Homo sapiens: one gene and its partners. The protein of the gene in region 2 interacts with the protein of the main gene of each other region in a pairwise test. Each region holds a gene or a part of one and is shown on either strand. Other genes may lie near its edges.

The links. Proteins that work in one complex are often made in the same cells at the same time.
Region 1: the proteins of SOD1 (region 2) and KLHL36 interact in binary tests that used the Homo sapiens proteins (3 or more experiments, as listed by UniProt).
Region 3: the proteins of SOD1 (region 2) and SP6 interact in binary tests that used the Homo sapiens proteins (3 or more experiments, as listed by UniProt).

Annotation. Positions count from the first base shown.
Region 1 is NC_000016.10:84,657,555-84,665,510, reverse strand, and holds part of KLHL36 (kelch-like protein 36), read right to left. Parts: coding exon 7,567-7,956; intron 5,752-7,566; coding exon 5,594-5,751; intron 3,934-5,593; coding exon 3,378-3,933; 3' UTR 1-3,377.
Region 2 is NC_000021.9:31,654,358-31,663,626, forward strand, and holds the start of SOD1 (superoxide dismutase [Cu-Zn]), read left to right. Parts: upstream 1-5,335; 5' UTR 5,336-5,412; coding exon 5,413-5,484; exon of another isoform or gene 5,485-5,667; intron 5,668-9,269. UniProt on the Homo sapiens protein: Destroys radicals which are normally produced within the cells and which are toxic to biological systems.
Region 3 is NC_000017.11:47,844,408-47,849,119, reverse strand, and holds the end of SP6 (transcription factor Sp6), read left to right. Parts: intron 1-633; 5' UTR 634-690; coding exon 691-1,821; 3' UTR 1,822-4,212; downstream 4,213-4,712. UniProt on the Homo sapiens protein: Promotes cell proliferation. Plays a role in tooth germ growth. Plays a role in the control of enamel mineralization. Binds the AMBN promoter.

The DNA.
Region 1 (7,956 bases), on a different chromosome or scaffold from region 2:
CAGTTGATAAAATAATCTCTGTGCATTTAAAACAGCAGGAAGTTTGCTATAAGTAACAAGGGTTCATCAGCTTTCTACTCCCTCCCTTCTATTATTATAATACATCTATGTCTTAAGCAAACAGCTTTCCAACTTGGGTGAGGACCAAACCCCAAACTTACAACTAATATGAAGTTACAACTCTAATTCTTTAGAAATGAGAGAAGTCCAAACCTCAATAGAAGCCTGCCATGCTTATTTTGAAATGTTAAAAAAAAAAAAAGATCCAGGTGTCTTCAAAATTCAAGCAGAATAGCTTGAAACACTGAAAGTTTAACATGATGACATGTGTGGCTGTTTCCCTCTCAAAATGGCAGCCTGCAAGCACCTGTGCCTTCATCACTCTAGTTTAAAACCCCACATTCGTGACTGTGCGGTTCAAATGGCCACTGCATAAGCACAGCCCAAACTCTGCCCATCTGAGTTAAAAAACATTTTATTCTTTTGAGACAGGGTCTCACTCCGTCACCCAGGTTAGAGTGCAGTGGTGTGGTCATAGCTCACTGCAGCCTCAACCTCCCAGGCTCAGGTGATTCTCCCACCTCAGCCTCCTAAGCAGCTGGGACTACTGCATGCCCCACCATCCCTGGCTAATCTTTTGTAATTTTTTTGTAGAGATGGGGTTTTGCCATGTTGCCCAGGCATGGTCTCTTCCATTTTCAGTTCCATTTTCATGCACAGTAGGGTGAATTTTCAACTTAAAAAGACAAGTAACAAAAACCTGGCCCGGGCACCACCACTGGGTGCCCTTGTGCCCATCCACTGACCCCAACAAGCTCAAAAACCTTTCTTGTCACAGTGTAGCCACCATCAAATATTAGAAGTTGACCCACAAGATGAAACTTGTTTATCCTCCCTTTAAAAGGGTGGTCCCAACCTTAGTAATATTAGGGTCAAAGCCATGTCAATTACAAACCACCTTCATAGTATCAGGAGAGACACCACAAAATATGAAGCGCAGGACGTCGTATGTAACTCATGAGGCACAAGAAAATCAGAATAGAGGCCAGAAGCTCACACATTTCCAGGGACAAGTCCCAGAAGCAAAACATAAAAGAGCTGGCTTAGGCTGAAAACCAATGGCTCTCCTCTCTCCAAGGTCAAAGCTATCCCACTCCCCAAATCACTCACAGAGTCTTTCTATGTGCTCTCCCCAACTTGCCCCGAGATTCAGGCCAAACAACTGCCCGTTTGTTCATGACCCAGGCTGAGATGGGGAGAACAGCCCACGTACACCCTACCCTGCCTTCTGAGGGGTCTACAAGCAATAAAACCTTTCCCGAATAGGAAGGGGGTAAGCTATCCCAAAGTTGGCAGAAGTTCTGCAAAACATGTTTTGTGGGGGTCTGGGACTAGGTATGAGACAAACGACTTTTAGGCTCAAAGAAGTTTGGAAATGCTGGGTTGAGACTTCTCGGAACCTTTCATACACCGGAATGCTGCAGAGCTCCAAGCAGAGTTTCCAGCCTTTTGGTCTGTTTGTTTGTATGCCTCGCAGAACCTCTCAACAGTTTGTAAGCCTCCAGGGACTTCACATGCAAATAACTAGCTAGCTGAACATGCAGACTGCCCTCCTCACTAACCACAGAGGGCAGTAAGTTGGCTATTGAAGCTTTCAGTCCCCAAAATGCTCTCATCTCTTCTGGATGGCTACATAAACAGACCAGTGAGAACCACAGTAAACCCTGAAGGGAAGGGAAAGGAGGGGCAGCAAAGAAGCAGAAGAAATGGAAATTAAAGTTAACTAAGATTTTTTTCCTAGTCTAATATCAATCTTAACACATTGATCCTCATCCACTCGAGCAGCTGAGAGCCCTCTTAAAGGGCAAGTGACATCGAGACCTGCTCTCGGAACTGTCTGCAGGAAGACTGGTGTTAGACTAGGATTGAAGATGAAGCACATCTTGAAGTTTACTGATCTCTGCCATCGGATGCTGGGTGAGGTACAGCTCATTCATGCCTTCCTTGGCTCATGCTTAAAACCCATCACACTCCTATCCTCCCATAGTTCTGCACGTTTCTCATCCACTCGGGCAGCTAAGAGCCCTCTTAAAGGGCAAGCGACCCTGACACCTGCTTTAGGAACTGTTTGCAGGAGTCAGTGCAGGCCAGCTCCACATCCTGAAGGGGATGCCATCCGGGTACGAACAGCTCAGAGGCTGAATGGCCCTATCACCCGGGAGGAGCCTGGAGGGTATTCCATCTAATCCTGTGGCTAAGCGGGGTGGATGAGGGAACACACGGACTTGTTCGAGAATTTGCCCAGCAGCACGAAACTACTTAGAAGCAGAAAACTGGGGCAGGACCTGGCGTGGGAGTTAGGGAGCCCTCCACTGCCTTCTCAGGGATCCACATGTGCTCCTCTGTGCAGGAACTTTCAACAGCGCCTCAAGATAGAGTCACAGAGAACGATGGCAAATTCCATAGCACTCACTTTTTCTTTCCTGAGAAATAAACAGATTTGGGAGCTCAGTACATCAGTAATATAAAAGACAGTGGGTTCAGAAAAAAAAAAAAGGAAAAAAATGCACAAATTACAAAAAAATATGTATAAAGAGCTTCATACCTTTTTTCGTTTTTGGTTACCTGTAACGTTTTAGAATTCAAGAAGGTTTCCAATGAGGAAAGACGGAATTATTCAGAAACAGCGTTCACCTGATACGGAGAACAGCTCCCCAGCGGGAAGTCATCATGTCTCATCTGACAGTCTAGCGAGCTGCGTGGCCCCTGGTCACTCACTCACTCACCCTCATGGGTGGTCTCTGTGCACTCATTTATAAAACAAACACACTGGACCTTGCCAGTGATTCCCAGATGTGACTAATACCCAGAATTCCAAGAACTAGTTAAAATACAGCTTCTGGGCACCACCTCCTCCCCGTTCCTGGTGGTTTTGGATTCCATAATTCTGAGCGGGGCTCACGCATCTGTATTCTTAAAAGTTCAGCCAGGTTTGGGGAGGCTTGGACTAGGTGGCCTAAGAGAACCCTTTGAGGCCCAAGCTTCACTACAGAAATTTCTGTGTTACCCACGTGCCAGCTACTCTCAGGGGGACAGTCAGCAAGGACCCATGAGGAATCATAACACGGGGCAAAGACCTGTGAAGATACAAGGGGTTGCTCACTGCCTGGGCCCAGGGTTAGTTATTCAAGCAAGATATGTAAAGTTACAGATAGTATTTAATTGGTTACTGTGATATCATAGAAATACCAAGAATCATAAAAGTAAAAAAAGCTGCTAAGTTGTACATAATGTTTCCGGAATACTAAGAAGTTGCTGCTGGTCTACAGAGCCCTGGGAGGTGACGGTGAGGATGGTCCCAAGAGGCGCAGCTAGGGTCACTGGCCCCGGTCCTGGTGCCTCTTGCCTTTGCCTTTCTTCTTCTTGTCCTCTGGCCGTGGCTCCAGGGCGCAGACACAGGCGGACCCGCCAGCGATGGCCTTGGGCAGGTCGACGCCCCTGCTCCACTTGTCGGCCTCGCGGTCGTACACCTGCACGGTCTTGGAGAAGGCAGTGTTCTCCCAGCTGTAGCCGCCCAGGATGTAGATGCGGCCCTCCCACACTGCCACGCCCGACTCGCTGTTGGCGTGCAGCAGCGGCGCCACGCGGGTCCACTGGTTGCACTGCGGGCTGTAGGCCTCCACGCCCAGCACGTCGAAGCGCTCCATGGACTCGATGTTGTCATCGCTGCCCCCGATGGAGTAGATGCTGTCACCCAGGCTGCACATGCTGTGCCAGCCGCGCGCCGTGGTCATGGGCCGCCGCTCCTCCCACACGTCTGTCCGGTGGTCGTAGCATAGCAGGTTCTTGCGGTAGGGGCCAATTTGGTAGTCGTGGCCCCCCGAGATGTACACGAAGTCTTTGTAGATGGTGCCCGCGTGGCCGTACGTGAACCTGCAGGGTCGACGGGCAGAGACAGAGGGAGAGCTCAGGGCTGTGCCAGGCTTACCCCCTCCGAGCCGGGGAACAGCCTGCCGTCTTAGAGGGCCATGAGGATTTAAGAATATAGGGAGTGGGCACCCCATGAACACTCTATAGACAGTAGCCGTCATTAGCAAAGAAATGGCAGGGCAGGGCGGGGAAGTGGACAGCTTTGCAGTCAGGCCGCCTGGGCCAGAACCCAGCTTCACTCTCTCTGAGTCTCCCTTGCCCCATCTGGGAAATGGGAATAATCACAGGACCATCACCCTTTTCACAATGGCTGGAAACGACTAGAACAATGAGCTAGCAGGCACACATGCACCCGATGAATCACACATCAAAGAGGAAATACGACATACAGTCCAATTCTAACTGTGCTGGCACTCGGGAAAAGTTTTGCCTAAAACCATAGAGACAGCAAAATCAGTGGCTGCCAGGACTGTGGGGAGAGGGGAGGGAGGGATGGACAGCACGCACACAGTGGGCTTTAGGGCAGTGAAATGATTCTGCGTGATGCTGTAATGGTGGATTCATGTTGCTTTGTGTTCCTCAAAACCCACACAACTGTGCCAGGAAGTGGGAACCCTGATGTAAACCAGGGCCTTTAGTGAATAAGAAAGGATCAATATGGCCAGGTGCAGTGGCTCATGCCTGTAATCCCAGCACTTTGTGAGGGTGAGGTGGGTGGATCTCTTGAGGCTAGGAGTTCAAGACCAGCCTGGCTAACATGATGAAATCCTGTCTCTACCAAAAATACAAAACTTAGCTGGGTGTGGTGGCAGGCGCCTGCAGTCCCAGCTACTCAGAAGGCTGAGGCAGGAGAACTGCTTGAGTTCAGGAGGCAGAGATTGCAGTGAGCCGAGATCGCGCCACTGCACTCCAGCCTGGGTGACAGAGAGAGACTCTCTCTCAGAAAAACAAAAATACGAGCGCTTACCCCACACACTTCTAACTCTTACGGACACCTGGATGTATTCCACAGCAAAGACTGGTTCAGAAAGTGCACTGCTGGGTGCGGCAACAGGGAACTGGTGGAAAAAATGGTGTGCACCTTCTGCTAATCCCATGGAGATAATAAATGCTCGATACATGCACATCGGAACGCAGGGGAGACTGAGGAGGGTGAGGCGGCCACCCTGGGGCACTCCCTGCATGTGGATGCAGGTTTCACAAGCAGCACTGCATCTGCTCTGCACAACAGTGCTGTGGGGTGGGTATCATTATCGTCTACCTCTACAGATGAGGAACTAAAGGCCGAGCGGGGTGAAGACCCATGCCTGAGGCTTAGATCTAGCACATATACCCCCATCTCTTTGAACTCCTCCTGCCCAAGCTCAGGGAGATCCTCAGGTCAGGCCTCACCCTCTGAAGCTCAGCAACTGCACACACTCAGCCATGGAGGGATGTCCGTCATGGCGGCAGAGCTGACCCTTGCCCTAAGTCTGAAACCGGAGCCCGGACTGTGCACCGTCACGCCCTCCGCCCCTCATGGTGTACCCACTCTTCCTGACAAGCCGGAAGATTTCATTCCTGGAATTGGAGGCCAACATGCCCAGAAAGTGAGGCACGTGGACTGAACTATGTCCCTTAAAAACATCCCATTTGGAGAACCTTCCACCAAGCCCCAGATCACCTTGGCAAGCCGGCCACATAGGACCAGGAGTCAGTCTTGGGACTGTACGTCTCTACTGAAGAGAGCGCTCCGTTCTCATTCCGGCCGCCGATGGCCACCAGCATGTCTTCGATGGAGGCAAGGTAGAAATCCACACGGCGCTGGTTCATGGAGGCCACCTGTGGAGTTGAGATACCTGTACCTTCCCTTCCCCGAACCCGGGACAGCATCAACATCTGGCGCTGCGGTTCCCAAATGTGTCTGCGGAATGCACAACCCCGGAGAATGTTTGGGAAAGGGAACTGCACCTGAATAAAGAGGGCTTCTTCAGGTGGGAGCTCTGAGCCCCCGAGGTTTCACCAAGATGCTCTGAATCCCCAAAAGTGGGATGGAGACGCTCTGAGTCCCCAAAAGGGGGATGGAGATGCTCTGAACCCCCGAACTTCTCTGGTCATGTCGTTAGCCGCGTGGATGGGAACTCTGTGGTCACAGGGGTCAGAATTGCTGATCTAGTGGCTTTATGAAATAAAAATTCATCTTTCCTCTCCCCACATCAGATTTGTAAAGTTAGTGCTGCTCTGCCACTCCGTGTTAACAGAGCAGGACGTGGCATTCGACAGGAAATTAAACAGAAGAGGCTGGGCGCGGTGGCTCACGCCTGTAATCCTGGCACTTTGGGAAGCCAAGGTGGGTGGATTACCTGAGGTCACGGAGTTCGAGACCAGCCTGGCCAACATGGTGAAACCCCGTCTCTACTGAAAATACAAAAATTAGCCGGGCGTGGTGGCAGGCGCCTGTAATTCCAGCTACTCAGTAGGTTGAGGCGCCAGAATTGTTTGAACCTGGGAGGCAGAGGTTGCAATTAGCCGAGATCGTGCCACTGCACTCCAGCTTGGGTGACAGAACAACTCTGTCTCACACACACACACACAAAAAGTAGAAGAGCCAACTTTTTTTTTTCTTTTTTTAAACGAATCCAAGGCAAACACACTGCTGCCACTGCTGCCAGGCTTCGGGAGGAGGCTCCAAAGCCAGGGACCCTTTCCAGTGGTGACACTTCGACCTTGGAGGGCAGTCTCAGATTTCTGAGAGTAAAATCAAAAGGTCAGCTGGAGTCCATTCTGACTGGGTTTTGAGCTGAGAACAGCACTGAGCTGGGCGCGACGCTGAGGTGTGAGTATAGAGGCTGAGATGGACTGTCCCGGGGACCGAGTGGCTGGAGAGCGCTCCCAGCAGAAAGGAGACACCTTCCCTACGCCAGGGGCTTGCCAGTCAACATGAGCTACTGCACTCCCTGTCCCCCACGTATTCCCAGAAGGGGAATCCAAAATGTGGAGAGGACAAGAATCTGAAATTTCCTAGCTATGACTTAGCCAGGCTGGGATGAGACCTCAGGTCTGACATCAAGGCCCACGCTCTTCCCAGAATCAGGACACAATACATGCCCAAGGGCCAGGCGTGAGCACTAGTGGTCTCCTTAAACTATCTCCCAAAATGCTTCCAGAGGAGCCCCACAGAGACTCCAGGACCTGGGGATGTTGAACCATGGATCAAACATCTAGACCCATGCTACTGTCCAATAGGGTAGCCACGCCTCGTGCGGCCACATACACTTACACGTCAATCGGTTAAAGTGAAATAAAATTGAAAATTGACTTCTTCAGTCGCACTGGCCACATTTCAAGTGCTCAGTCGCCACATGCGGCTGTGGCTACCGTATCGGGAAGTACAGACAGACCCTTCCATCTGCACAGAAAGCCCCGCCAGGCAGTGCTGCTCTGAACGATGACGGACCCCTCGAAGGGGTGGGTCGGCTCTCCCTCTCCCTGTCCAGGATGTAGGCCCCGGGGTATTCTGCTCGTCACTTTATCATCACACCTCATTCAGAAGCAGGATAGTTGTCAAGGCCCCAGAGAGGTAAGGAAAGTCAAGGCTAGGTTAAGGAAACCGAGAGAGTCCTCAAGAGAAAAGAAATAATCTGGCTTTAATCTCACCTTGATCCACTGTTTACAGCGGGGGTCATACCTATAAAGAAGATTGGAGGCCGCATCCCCTCCGTTGTCCCGTGAGAAGCTGCCGCCGGCGATGAAGATGAAGCCCCCCAGCACCGCGACACAGTGGTGGCTCCGCCGGGCGGGCAGCGGCGTCTCTTTGACCCACTGCTCGCTCTTGGCGTCCAGGTAGCAGGTGTCGTCACTGAGCTCCAGACACCGCTCGGAGACCTCGCCGCCCACAAACAGCAGGCGCTCCTGGTTGGTGCGCAGCGCCGTGCGCTTGGTCTGCATGACGGGCTGGGCCGCCAGGTTGTTGTGGTAGCGCACGGCCTCCTCGATGAAGCCCTCGCAGTTGGCCTCCTTGGGCAGCAGCGAGCACACGGCCGGCTT
Region 2 (9,269 bases):
GTACTCAGAGCAGTGCCGCCCACCGGCACTGGGCTCGATTTCTCACCGGCCTTAGCTGCCTCCCTGCGGGGCATGGCTCGGGACCTGCAGCCCGCCATGCCTGAGCCTCCCCCTCTCTGTGGGCTGCTGTGCTGCCGGAGCCTCCCCGACAAGCACCGCCCCCTGCTCTACGGCGCCCAGTCCCATCGACGACCCAAGGGCTGAGGAGTGCGGGTGCACGGCATGGGAGTGGCAGGCAGCTCCACCTGCAGCCCAGGTGCGGGATCCACTGGGTGACGCCAGCTGGGCTCCTGAGTTTAGTGGGGACCTGCAGAACCTTTATGTCTAGCTAAGGGATTGTAAATGCACCAATCGGCACCCTGTGTCTAGCTCAGGGTTTGTGAATGCACGAATCGACACTCTGTATCTAGCTACTCTGGTGGGGAGGTGGAGAACCTTTGTGTCTAGCTCAGGGATTGTAAACACACCAATCAGCGCCCTGTCAAAACAGACCACTCGGCTCTACCAATCAGCAGGATGTGGGTGGGGCCAGATAAAAGAATAAAAGCAGGCTGCCTGAGCCAGCAGTGGCAAGCTGCTTGGGTCCCCTTCCATACTGTGGAAGCTTTGTCTTTCTTTGCAATAAATCTTGCTGCTGCTCACTCTTTGGGTCCACACTGCCTTTATGAGCTGTAACACTCACCACGAAGGTCTGCAGCTTCACTGCTGAAGCCAATGAGACCACGAACCCCCCGGGAGGAATGAACAACTTGAGACGCGCTGCCTTAAGAGCTGTAACACTCACCGCGAAGGTCTGCAGCTTCACTCCTGAGCCAGCGAGACCACAAACCCACCAGAAGGAAGAAACTCCGAACACATCTGAACATCAGAAGGAACAAACTCCGGACACGCCACCTTTAAGAACTGTAACACTCACCGCGAGGGTCCACGGCTTCATTCTTGAAGTCAGTGAGACCAAGAACCCACCAATTCCGGACACACCAGCTACTAGGGAGGCTGAGGTGAGGGGATCACCTGAATCCAGGAAGTCGAGGGTGCAGTGAGCCGAGATCATGCCGTTACACTCCAGCCTGAGTGACAGAGTGAGATCTTGTGTCAAAAAAACAGAACAAAATAAAACAAGAACGTTGAATAGGCTGTGTGTTAATTCTGAGATGGAGTCCAGACTTAAGAATGATCCTGAGGCTTAGACCCATATCCAAGAGGATGATTCCAGCCTGGCACTTATAGGTTCTTCAGGCACTTCAGATGCACCCTGTCCTGAATTAAGCCCTTTGTCCTTGAACCTGCTTTCCTTGGTAAACAGCACCAAGGGGGCTAGAAACCTGGGGGCTGCCCTTACCTTCCCTCTCTCACCATGCACCTCTAATGGGTGGCTGGACTTGTGGTTGCATTTCCGTGATCTCCCAGCTTTCTTCCAGTGATGGCCTTAGGTGGGCTCTTATCCTGTCTCCCAAATGGCCTCTCTGCCTTGAGTCTCACCCCATCTGCTCTCAGTCCACCCACTGAGCTATTCCAGAGACCATTCTGACTCCCTGTGGACACCCCTCTGGTGGCTTCTCCTCTCTGTCAGTTAGAAATTGCTTTTGACTGCATGTAACAAATGTGGTTACGCTATTTAACCAAATAAAGGTTTATTTTTCTCGTGATGAAAAGTACACAGATAAGCAGCCTACTTCCATCGATAACCATTGAGGGTTTCTTATGACTCTTACAGCAATGAAATGTGTATTTACAGTATAAAGATATACAATTTTAAGGTTTTAATATAATTGGGCCTAAGCACAGTATTTTTTGTTTTAGTTTTCAACTGCCCAGGTGATTCTATTGTGCAGCCAGGGTTGATAAACACTGCATCTAGGCCCAGTGCCTTTGATTTGCAGCTGAGGTCTAGAGAGAATTATTGAAACTGCAGTCCCAGCTACTTGGGAGGCTGAGGTTGGAGAATTGCCTAAGCCCAGCGGGGTGAGGCTGTAGTGAGTCAAGACTGCACCACCGCACTCCAGCCCGGGCGACAGAGCAACACTCCATCTAAAAAAAAAAAAATTTCTGGTCTACCTTTTTGCCCACCTTTTAACCACAGAGGTCCCCAAACATGAATTTTCACTCTCAGGAAGGCTGAAATGACACATTACAAGCGGTTTAGTCATCTGCACGTGCCGCCATCTGATTTAAGGCATCTATTCCTCCTCACCATTCCTGACAAAGTTGAACTGTCTACATGTGCCACATTCTCCTCTTTCTCTAATTCCTTCCCTCCTTCCCTCCTCCCTTTCTTCCCTCCCTCCCTCCTTCCTTCTTCTTTCTCTTTCTTTTTCTTTCTCTCTTTCTCTTTCTTTCTCTTTCTCTCTCACTCTCTTTTCTTCTTTCTGACAGGGTTTGCCTGTTCTGCTTCTTTAAACCCTGGGGTTCAAGTGCAAAGGTCCCTCTCATCTGATTTCCCTATTTTATTTTATTTAAGTTAGATACTCCACGATGATGATGATGATTATTGTTGAGACAGGATTTCATTCTGTTGCCCAGGCTGGAGTGCAATGGTGCGATCACAACTCACTGCAGCCTCAACCTCCTGGGCCCACGCGATCCTCCTACCTCAGCCTCCCAAGTAGCTTGGACTACAGGGGTGTACCACCATGCCCGGCTAATTACATGTGCCAGATTCAACCCACGTTCCAGGGTTCCAAACAACCAAGGCTCTATCATCCTGTCTTAACAAATATACCTTCATAAAGACCTGGAAGGCAGGTTGAAATGTGGAATTCTTGGACTTCTTTCAGTTCTACGTAGAAGGGTAGCAGTGGAGAGCTGGCTGCCTGCCCGCCCCTGGCCTTTCCTCCTTTCCCCACCCCTGCTCCTTGTGGCACTGGGCAGGGCCTACGTTCAAGGCTAGCAGTGTACTCAACAAGGGACAGTCCCTGTGTGGCCTGTTCAGGATCCTATACACAGGCTCAGGGCTCTTTGGGCAGGAAATTCCAGGATCCGGGTACTCAAGTGGTGTTCTAAACAGTGGTTCTTGGCCGGGTGTGGTGGCTCACACCTGTAATCCCAGCACTTTGGGAGGCCGAGGCTGGCAGATCACTTGAGGTCAGGAGTTCGAGACCAGCCTGGCCAACATGGTGAAACCCCATCTCTACTAAAAATACAAAAACTTAGCCAGGCATGGTGTGCACGCCTGTAGTCCCAGCTACTCGGGAGGCTGAGGCAGGAGAATCACTTGAACCCAGCAGGCGGAGGTTGCAGTGAGCTGAGATTGCACCACTGCACTCCAGCCTGGTGACAGAGTGAGACTCCATATCAAAATAAATACATAAATAAATAAAAACAGTGATTCTTAACTGGGAGTGATTTGGCAACGTCTGGAATTATTTTTGGTTATCCCAGCCTGGCAGGGAGGGACAGGGTATTACTGGCATCTAGTGAGTAGGGGCTAGGGATTCTACTGAACATCCTACAGTGTACAGGACAGCCTCCACAGCAAAGAACTGTCTGGCCCAAAATGTCCATAGTGCCCACATTCGATGCCCTGCATTAGGAAGATATAAATACTCTTAAATATCACAGAGTTAAATTCCTTACCCCTGTTCTAGCAGAGATGATATTCTTGCGGGGGGAGCATCTTCTTGGCTTCAACACATTCTTTTCTCCATGGGAGATGATGCCAGAAGAGGGACAGAACAGGGCCCAGTAAAGCATGGGGCCTGGGGCCAGGGACCCCCTTGTTCAGGTGTGACGACCATCCTACGAAGGCACCACCCAGGCATCATTAGACCGTCTCAAAAGAAGAGTAATTCACTGTCCCAAAGCAGCTCTCTCGTGTCTGTGGGCGGATCCCTTGGCAAGTTTACAATGAACTGAAATCTGCCGAACTTCCTGGAACCCAAAGAAACTTTAGCCTTGGGCAAAGGCCCTTTGGCCAGCATTTGCACTGTTTATGCAACCGTTTAGAATATACGAATTATCTGGAGACTACTACCAAATACAACAGGCAAAACTGCAAATATGTATACTTCCTAGAGGATGATAAAAAAATGTGAATTGTATTTCTCTGATAGAGGATGCATTAGAGTCTGAGGGTCTAAATAGCGTAAATAATAAATAAGTAAATAAATCGATAGTAGTGTACTCCAAACGAGGCTGGAATAGCTTCTATTGTTGTTTCACACTGGACTTCAATTAAGTCTCAGTATTTTGCCATACTCAATATTAAGTACTAGGCTGGACGTGGTGGCTCATGTCTGTAATCCCAGCACTTTGGGAGGCCGAGGTGGGTAGATGGCTGGCTTGAGCTCAGGAGTTTGAAACCAGCCTGGGCAACATGGTAAAACCCCATCTGTACCCAAAATACAAAAATCAGCCAGGTGTGGTGGCACATGCCTGTGGTCCCAGGTACTTGGGAGGCTGAGGCAGGAGGATGGCTTGAACCCAGGAGGTGGAGGCTGCAGTGAGCTATGATGGCGCCACTGCACTCCAGCCTGGGTGACAGAGCGAGACCCTGTCTCAAAAATCAAACAAACAACCCCCTCGCCCCGGACAAAAGTAGTTTGCACTATTTTCTCATTTCACAATATGTTTTTGAAATATTTCCCTTGAAAGGTAAGTCATATTTATCATTCCTGTTGTATGGAGGCATCATAAATTATTTCACCATTCTACCCTCCTTGAGTGTTGTGGCCTTTAGGCCAGACAAAAACGCAGGTGATGCCTAGAAGCCAACTAGTTGCCGTTTGGTTATCTGTAGGGTTGTGGCCTTGCCAAACAGGAAAAATATAAAAAGAATACCGAATTCTGCCAACCAAATAAGAAACTCTATACTAAGGACTAAGAAAATTGCAGGGGAAGAAAAGGTAAGTCCCGGGATTGAGGTGTAGCGACTTTCTATACCCTCAGAAAACTAAAAAACAAGACAAAAAAATGAAAACTACAAAAGCATCCATCTTGGGGCGTCCCAATTGCTGAGTAACAAATGAGACGCTGTGGCCAAACTCAGTCATAACTAATGACATTTCTAGACAAAGTGACTTCAGATTTTCAAAGCGTACCCTGTTTACATCATTTTGCCAATTTCGCGTACTGCAACCGGCGGGCCACGCCCCCGTGAAAAGAAGGTTGTTTTCTCCACATTTCGGGGTTCTGGACGTTTCCCGGCTGCGGGGCGGGGGGAGTCTCCGGCGCACGCGGCCCCTTGGCCCCGCCCCCAGTCATTCCCGGCCACTCGCGACCCGAGGCTGCCGCAGGGGGCGGGCTGAGCGCGTGCGAGGCGATTGGTTTGGGGCCAGAGTGGGCGAGGCGCGGAGGTCTGGCCTATAAAGTAGTCGCGGAGACGGGGTGCTGGTTTGCGTCGTAGTCTCCTGCAGCGTCTGGGGTTTCCGTTGCAGTCCTCGGAACCAGGACCTCGGCGTGGCCTAGCGAGTTATGGCGACGAAGGCCGTGTGCGTGCTGAAGGGCGACGGCCCAGTGCAGGGCATCATCAATTTCGAGCAGAAGGCAAGGGCTGGGACGGAGGCTTGTTTGCGAGGCCGCTCCCACCCGCTCGTCCCCCCGCGCACCTTTGCTAGGAGCGGGTCGCCCGCCAGGCCTCGGGGCCGCCCTGGTCCAGCGCCCGGTCCCGGCCCGTGCCGCCCGGTCGGTGCCTTCGCCCCCAGCGGTGCGGTGCCCAAGTGCTGAGTCACCGGGCGGGCCCGGGCGCGGGGCGTGGGACCGAGGCCGCCGCGGGGCTGGGCCTGCGCGTGGCGGGAGCGCGGGGAGGGATTGCCGCGGGCCGGGGAGGGGCGGGGGCGGGCGTGCTGCCCTCTGTGGTCCTTGGGCCGCCGCCGCGGGTCTGTCGTGGTGCCTGGAGCGGCTGTGCTCGTCCCTTGCTTGGCCGTGTTCTCGTTCCTGAGGGTCCCGCGGACACCGAGTGGCGCAGTGCCAGGCCCAGCCCGGGGATGGCGACTGCGCCTGGGCCCGCCTGGTGTCTTCGCATCCCTCTCCGCTTTCCGGCTTCAGCGCTCTAGGTCAGGGAGTCTTCGCTTTTGTACAGCTCTAAGGCTAGGAATGGTTTTTATATTTTTAAAAGGCTTTGGAAAACAAAAATACGCAACAGAGACCGTTTGTGTGACACTTTGCAGGGAAGTTTGCTGGCCTCTGTTCTAGGTCATGATTGGGCTGCAAGGGCAGAGAAGGTAGCCTTGAACAGAGGTCCTTTTCCTCCTCCTAAGCTCCGGGAGCCAGAGGTTTAACTGACCCTTTTGGGGATTTTTGAGGGCAGTGATCTTAACTTTGGGTGCACAGTTAGCTTATTTGAAGATCTTACTAAAAATACACCAGAGCCCAACCTCCGACCAATTACATCAAAACCTGTCCTAGTGCAGGGTGAGTATTGCTGTTTTTTGAAAGTTTCCAAAAGTGATTTTGATGTGCACCTACGATTGAGAACTGTCGTTTGAGGACAGTGGGTGGAGTTTCGTATTTGGAAATTAGAAGACCTGGAGTTTCCATTACACCGAATTGGCACTTAATAACTGTTGTCGGAGCATTTCTTAAGCCACATTTTCGTAAAGTGGCTTTAAAATTGCTCTGCCAGTAGGCAGGTTGCTAAGATGGTCAGAGACAAACTTCTGAACGACTCTTGTAAAATATACAGAAATATTTTCAGAACTTTTATCAGTAAAATTACAAAACGTGTTGCAAGGAAGGTGCTTGTGATAACACTGTCCCCAGAACCTTAGTGAAGTTACCAACTGGTGGAAAATTTTCTCTTGCACTCGGCTTAAAAATCATGAGGGAATATTTACTATACGAATGAGATTCAGTCTTTAAAGGGGTTTACAGAAACGTGAGAGGACAGGAACAGTTAGTCTGTGTAAATGTCTGAAATATATGTGAGGGAGATAATGAGTTTAGCCTTTTTCTTTAATAGGTCTCCAGATTTTCTGGAAAAGGTTCTTTGGCATTTGACTCCATTTTGCTGTTTCATTTGTCAGACTTCTTTTTGTCCCTCTTTACTTCTCCCCACATAATTCACCAGTACTAGTGTTTTGTTTTTCAGACCAAGTCTCGCTCTGTCGCCCAGGCTGGAGTGCAGTGGCGCGATCTCAGCTCACTGCAACCTCCGCCTCCCAGGTTCAAGCAATTCTCCTGCCTCAGCCTCCCGGGTAGCTGGGACTACAGGCGCGCGCCGCCACGCCTGGCTAATTTTTTATATTTTAGTAGAGACGGCGTTTCACCATGTTGGCCAGGATGGTCTCGATCTGTTGACGTCGTGATCCACCCGCCTCGGCCTCCCAAAGTGCTGGGATTACAGGCGTGAGCCACCCCGCCCGGCCACCAGTGCTATTCTTAAGACGCCTCTGAGGAATCCCTTCTCCCTGGCCATTGAGAATCCATGCATGAACCCAGGTTTTCCACCTTCCCTGAGCAGCTTGCATAGTTCCTTCTTTTAAGCGCCTGACTTCGTTTTGTTTGGTGCCCGTTGTACCTGAGAATGAGCCTTGGATAGTGGAGCATTCCAGCTTTCCAGATATGCAGAGATAATACATTGGCTATCAGCTACTTGGCTTGGCCTATTCCGTGTTTAAAATCTTGGACTCTTTGCTAGTTTTTACAGATCAGAATTTTTCACGTATTAATCCAGTTTTCCTAGCTTCTCTTGAAGAATTTTTGGAGATCTCTTCATACTGAGCCTTCATTAGCCCAGGACAGTACTGCTGTAGCAGTTCATATATTTTTTCGCTTCCCAGGCCTGTGTTATTCACTTAAGTTCATAGCCTGGTCCCTGCAGGGTTGTACCCGAGCACAGCTACTTAGATGTCCTGAATGTATTACCGGTTAAATGGAGGTTTCAAAGAACCTGCTGTTTTTGGCCCTGTGCTCTTGATAACAGAGTGTTTGAGGGACAACTTTCACATTTGAGTTTTTCCAAAATTAAAGGTTGTAGAAGAGTCACAGTATCTATTGTCAAAAAGAAAAGAATTTAAAAAGGCAGCAATTGCCAGGATACTTCATTTGAGCAATGATATTTTCCAGTGGAAAGTCACATCTTAAGGGTTAATGCCCCTTAACTGTTGGCCGTATTTGAAAACAAACCAAGCTAAAAACAAGAGACACTGACATGTTGTATGACGGTGTGGTGTGGATGTTGTGTTTATTTTAGTCCTGAGATCTAGTTGTAACTTCCTTGATTTCTGTATGTAGCCACGGAGCACCATTACCTGTCACCATTACCTGAATGGCTATACTGCTTGCTTTCATTTTGGTAGAGTGGAAAGGTTACCTAGGTTTCAGTGCTTGAAAAGATTTCAGAAAGCAGTAGTACGTCTGGTTAGACTAGAATCAGTCCTCTCCTGGGGGCAGTGGAATATAATATTTTCTGACTGCTAATTAAAAATACCTGTGATAGCCGGGCGTGGTGGCTTACGCCTGTAATCCCAGCACTTTGGGAGGCCGAGACGGGTGGATCACGAGGTCAGCAGATGGAGACCATCCTGGCTAACACGGTGAAACCCCGTCTCTACTAAAAATGCAAAAAAATTAGCCGGGTGTGGTGGTGGGCGCCTGTAGTCCCAGCTACTCAGGAGGCTGAGGCAGGAGAATGGCATGAACCTGGGAGGCGGAGCTTGCAGTGAGCCGAGATCATGTCACTGCACTCCAGCCTGGGCGACAGAGCGAGACTCGTCTCAAAAAAAAAAAGAAAAAAACTTATGATGGACACTTAAAAACACTCACTGAGTGGGGAGTGGAGAGCAGGGGTCCCAGGGTAGCCTGTTGGACATTTCCAGGGCGACTTTTTCTTTTTTTTTTTTTAAAGTCAAGTGAGTATGCCATATGGAAAAGGGTGTGCGTGGAGAAAAAGCAAGGGGCTCCAGAGTGTAGGATGAGACATACACCTTTTGGGTTAAAAAGGCTGAGGCAGGAGAATGGCGTGAACCCGGGAGGCGGAGCTTGCAGTGAGCTGAGATCATGCCACTGCACTCCAGCCTGGGCGACAGAGCGAGACTCTTGTCTCAAAATAAAAAACGTTTACATGTACATGTATATTCAACATGTACAAATATAACCTATTCAAAAGTATTTACTACATAAATAGGTACTTACATTACCTATTTACTGTAATAGTCAAAGCCTATGAAGTATCTAACACTGATGTGTAGGTACTCACTTTGCTTGCCACTCTATTAGGTGCTTTTTATGTTATTTAATCATGAAGCCTGGCCACAGGGTGCTTGTGCATTGAGTGTGGGAACAAGATTACCATCTCCCTTTTGAGGACACAGGCCTAGAGCAGTTAAGCA
Region 3 (4,712 bases), on a different chromosome or scaffold from region 2:
GGGGGCATGTGAGTCGGTTTAGTGGGCCCGATGTGACCAGGCCAGGCGGGGAGCAGCGTAGACGGTGAAATGCTTTTCATTACTGAACATGCTTTGGGAATGGCATGAGAACTCTTTCAAAGACTCAGGACCCGTTTGAGGCTTTATGAGGGGCAGGTCACCTGAAGCTTTGGGTTTCAGAAATAGACCATCCCCTCTCCCATCTGTATCCTGAGTTAAACTGGGGAAGCTGAGATGTGTCTAGATCCTCCATTTGGGCTGACAGCAGGTCTGCAGGGGGAAAATGCCACTGCCCCTTGTGTTGGCCTGGGCAGCTGGGGTGGGGATGGTTCTAGCACTGTGCTGTAGGTGTATCTGACCTACCATCCTGGGAGTGGCCCAACTCTAGGGATGAGCTGGGTCATACGGCAGGGATCACCCAGAGGAAGGTAGACCTCCATCATCCTCTGTGCTTGGATGAGAACCTCACATCTTGGACCCTTCCTCGCACTCCCGAATTCTCTAAACTCATCTCTAGTCCTCGTTCAGAGGTGCATCCTTCTTTTACACCTGGGGCCAGAGAGGAGGACCTGGGTTAGGAGGGAAAGTGAGCTGGTTATTTCCCTTACTTTTCTGCTTCTTCGCCTCCTTTAGGTCCCGTCTGAGGTGCCCCTGACCGTCCCTGCCCTCACCCCACCCCGGATCCCGGCAATGCTAACCGCTGTCTGCGGCTCTCTGGGCAGCCAGCACACGGAAGCGCCGCACGCCTCCCCGCCGCGCCTCGACCTGCAGCCTCTCCAAACTTACCAGGGCCACACGAGCCCTGAGGCCGGGGACTACCCCTCCCCGCTGCAGCCTGGAGAGCTGCAGAGCCTCCCGCTGGGCCCGGAGGTGGACTTCTCGCAGGGCTATGAGCTGCCAGGGGCCTCCTCGCGGGTAACCTGCGAGGACCTGGAAAGCGACAGTCCCTTGGCCCCGGGCCCCTTTTCCAAGCTCCTGCAGCCGGACATGTCACACCATTATGAATCGTGGTTCAGGCCGACTCACCCAGGCGCGGAGGATGGCTCGTGGTGGGACCTTCATCCGGGCACCAGCTGGATGGACCTCCCCCACACTCAGGGCGCGCTGACCTCACCTGGCCACCCGGGGGCGCTTCAGGCGGGCTTGGGGGGCTACGTCGGAGACCACCAGCTTTGTGCCCCGCCACCCCACCCGCATGCGCACCACCTCCTTCCAGCTGCCGGAGGGCAGCATCTCCTAGGGCCGCCCGACGGGGCTAAGGCCTTGGAAGTAGCCGCCCCGGAGTCTCAAGGGCTGGATTCCAGCCTGGACGGGGCGGCGCGTCCCAAAGGCTCCCGGCGGTCGGTGCCCCGCAGCTCAGGCCAGACCGTCTGTCGCTGCCCCAACTGTCTGGAGGCGGAGCGACTGGGGGCTCCATGTGGGCCCGATGGGGGCAAGAAGAAGCATTTGCACAACTGCCACATCCCGGGCTGCGGGAAAGCCTACGCCAAGACGTCGCACCTGAAGGCGCACCTGCGCTGGCACAGCGGCGACCGTCCCTTCGTGTGCAACTGGCTCTTCTGCGGCAAGCGCTTCACGCGCTCGGACGAGCTGCAGCGCCACCTCCAGACCCACACCGGCACCAAGAAGTTCCCCTGTGCAGTCTGCAGCCGCGTCTTCATGCGCAGCGACCACCTGGCCAAGCACATGAAAACCCACGAGGGCGCCAAGGAGGAGGCGGCTGGGGCGGCCTCGGGAGAGGGCAAGGCCGGCGGCGCAGTGGAGCCCCCCGGGGGCAAAGGCAAACGCGAGGCCGAGGGCAGCGTGGCTCCCTCCAACTGAGCTCCTCAGTGCCGCCTCCCTGCGGGTATCCCGGGGGGCACTGGATGCGAGCCCCCAGGTCTGACGTCCTTGGGGGTGGCTTGAGGAAGAGGGGAAGGTGCGTATTTATTCAGGGAGGAGGAAAAGTGGTGCAGGGACAGGGAGATGGGGCGCTAGGGGTTCTTAGTCTCTGGGGCTACTAGGCAGGATGAATTTGACTGGGTCGGTAGGAGCTGCGCAATGCCCCTCTGTTCTCCCCTGCCTCACAGTTTCCCTCGCCCCTGGGCTGGGGGGTTGGGGTGGGACACCCGTACCGCGGCTGGCTGGCGGGGACAGGCTAGAGGAGACAGCAAGTCCCAGTCCCCGGAGCAGAGAGAAGTGGGGCCGGCCCGGGGCGCTGGTGGTGGCTGTCTGGACACGTCCTTAGCGCCTGGGAACCAGGACATAAAAGCGCCTCCGGAGCCGCCCTGCGGCGGGGTCCCTTTCATCCCACTTAAAGTGCTTCTGCCCCTAGGGTTTCCGGAGGGAGAGCCGAGATGGGATGGGGGAGCCTGGGGGTCCCCCTTGGCAGGGGTGTCTCTTTCTGGTTTGGAGGGTTGTTGCTGTAAAAATAACTCCTTTGATGAGCTTCCTTATTAACCCTTTCAGACCCAGTCTGTTGGAGCCATGAAGGAAGAGGGAAAGAGGGCTGCCATTCCTGACAGCCTCCCAGCCAGGGCTGGCGATAAAGGACCGAGATAGATGGAGGGGGCGAGTAGGGAAGTCCTCTTCTAAAATGAGAGATAGGGATTTGGTGGGGTATGGAAGGAACTAACCCCTTCCCTCTCCACCTCTGATTCAGCCCTTAATTCTTGGTCTATGATAAATAAAGTTCAGTAGTCTCACATTCCCCATCTATTACCCTAGGTGTGTTTTCAAGGCAGCCAGCGGTAGAATCCATGTAGTTCCCACCAGTTGCCTTCCCCTCAGGGATGGAAGGAAGAGGGTTTCTTGGGCTGGTTGAGGGCAGATTGGGGGTGTCTCATCAGAGGGACCTCCACTGGTTCCCACTCAGAGTGGAGGCCTGCAGCCTACCTGACCATCTCTTTAGCTGTCACCAAGAAAATAAACCCCACTGTCTCTCTAGCTTGGCCCTTGTCTTTCCCTTGCCCCTGCCATAGCATGTTCATTAGGGGATTCCTTCCTCCCCCTCATCTCACAGGGGAAGGGAGAGGAAAGAGTTGTTCTCCCACTGGAAGGGGTTCTGCCTTCTGAGGTGACATCCAGGAAGCTGTCCCCATTCCCTTCTCCTTTAGATGCTAGAAACACATTTTGATTCTGATCATGGGGTGGGGGAGAGAGGAAAGGAGGGAGGGGAGAAGCCCAGCAGAAGCTGAGCCAGGCAGAGGGGAAAGAAGCTGATATGAGGAAGGGTCTGACAGGCCACAGCCCTTGCAGCCGGAGGGCTTTCCCACACTCAAGAGAGGGGCCTTACAGTCCCTCTGACACCCCTCCCCCTTCCCCTCGCTCCCTTTCTTCACCCGGAGCCCTCTGCAGAGATTAGCTGTGTATTGATTTTTAAGTTATAAGCAAAGGGTATTTTATTTAATATTAGGTTATGTGTGTGCATGTTGTGTGTACCTGTGTGCATGTATGTGTGTTTCTCTACTGAGCCTGGGGTCTCTAGCCAGGGAGACCCCATCTTATTCACCATGTCCAAGATCCTGGGATCTGGGCCCAGCATCTCTTCCTCCTTTGTAGATGCTGGAGCCCAGCCAAGGTCTGGGAGCTATATGGGAAGTGGGGGCTGGGATCTGGGTGGGAATATGTGTTTGTATACAAAGGGGCCCTCCTTAAAAGGGACAGGATGACCTTCCCGAGGAACTCATTGGCCTGGGGTAGTTTAAGAAGTAATGTTCTTTCTTTCTTTCTCTTTTCCCTACCTCCTGCTAACCCAACCAGAGATCCCCTTCCTTGCTGAGAGGGTTGGGGGCAGGAGGAGATTTGGCAGTGCCTGCAGGTTGCCTGGCCAGGTGGAGAGGGGGAAAGAGGAAGGGCACCGTGGGTGTAAGATGCCTTTCTCCTCCACCCATCGAAACCAGCCACCCCTTCCCTGTGCCACCAAGACAGCCTTTTCCAGTGGCCATCCTAAGGGGAACTCCCAAATGGGTGTTGCTGGTGGACACAGATGCTCCCCCCAATGGAAGCCCCAAGCTCTGAGGTATGCGGGTAGAGGCTTTGGATAGGTTTTCTTCTGCTCCCCTCTTTTATAGATCTAGGCTGCTTGGCTGCCTGTCTTTCTAGGCAGTCCCCCTAGAGGAAAAATGTAGGAATTTATTTTTTCTTTAACTGCTGTGAACTCACTTTGAGGGGGTAGGAGGAGGGAGAAACAGCCTGTGTTTTTTATGCAATAAAGTCATCAACTACATCATGCTTCCTTTGTGTTCCAGCTCTGTTTCCTTTTTGACTCAGTGTCCCTCAGCAGTGAGGACCAGGTCTGGGCCACAGAGTGGGGTGGATGCTTCCCAGTGATCCTGCAGCCCCTTGGAAAGCCTCATGTCTATTGAGTTGGGTTGGAGCTGGGGTCTGATCCTGCCCCAGAGGTGGCTGGTACAGAAGGAGGGAGGTTCTTCCTCTGGGTTGGTACCCGGGCTGTCCCTCCCTGGTCTCATACCTGTGGTTATGAGAAGTTTCTAGATATCTCTTTCCTCTTCCACATACAAGCCCCTTCTTTCCCTTCCCCTGCTAAGAACACTGGTTCCCTCTTTCCCAGGCACTGGCTCCCTCACTCCATCCCCATAGAGGGTGCATGTCAGTCCATCCCCTGCCTGTGACTGAGCTGGGGGTGATTGGCAGTGATTACTTCACCCAGGATGATCCTTATCAGGGACAAGGCGATGAAAGGCAGCCGAGCTATCTGATGGGCTCCTGCC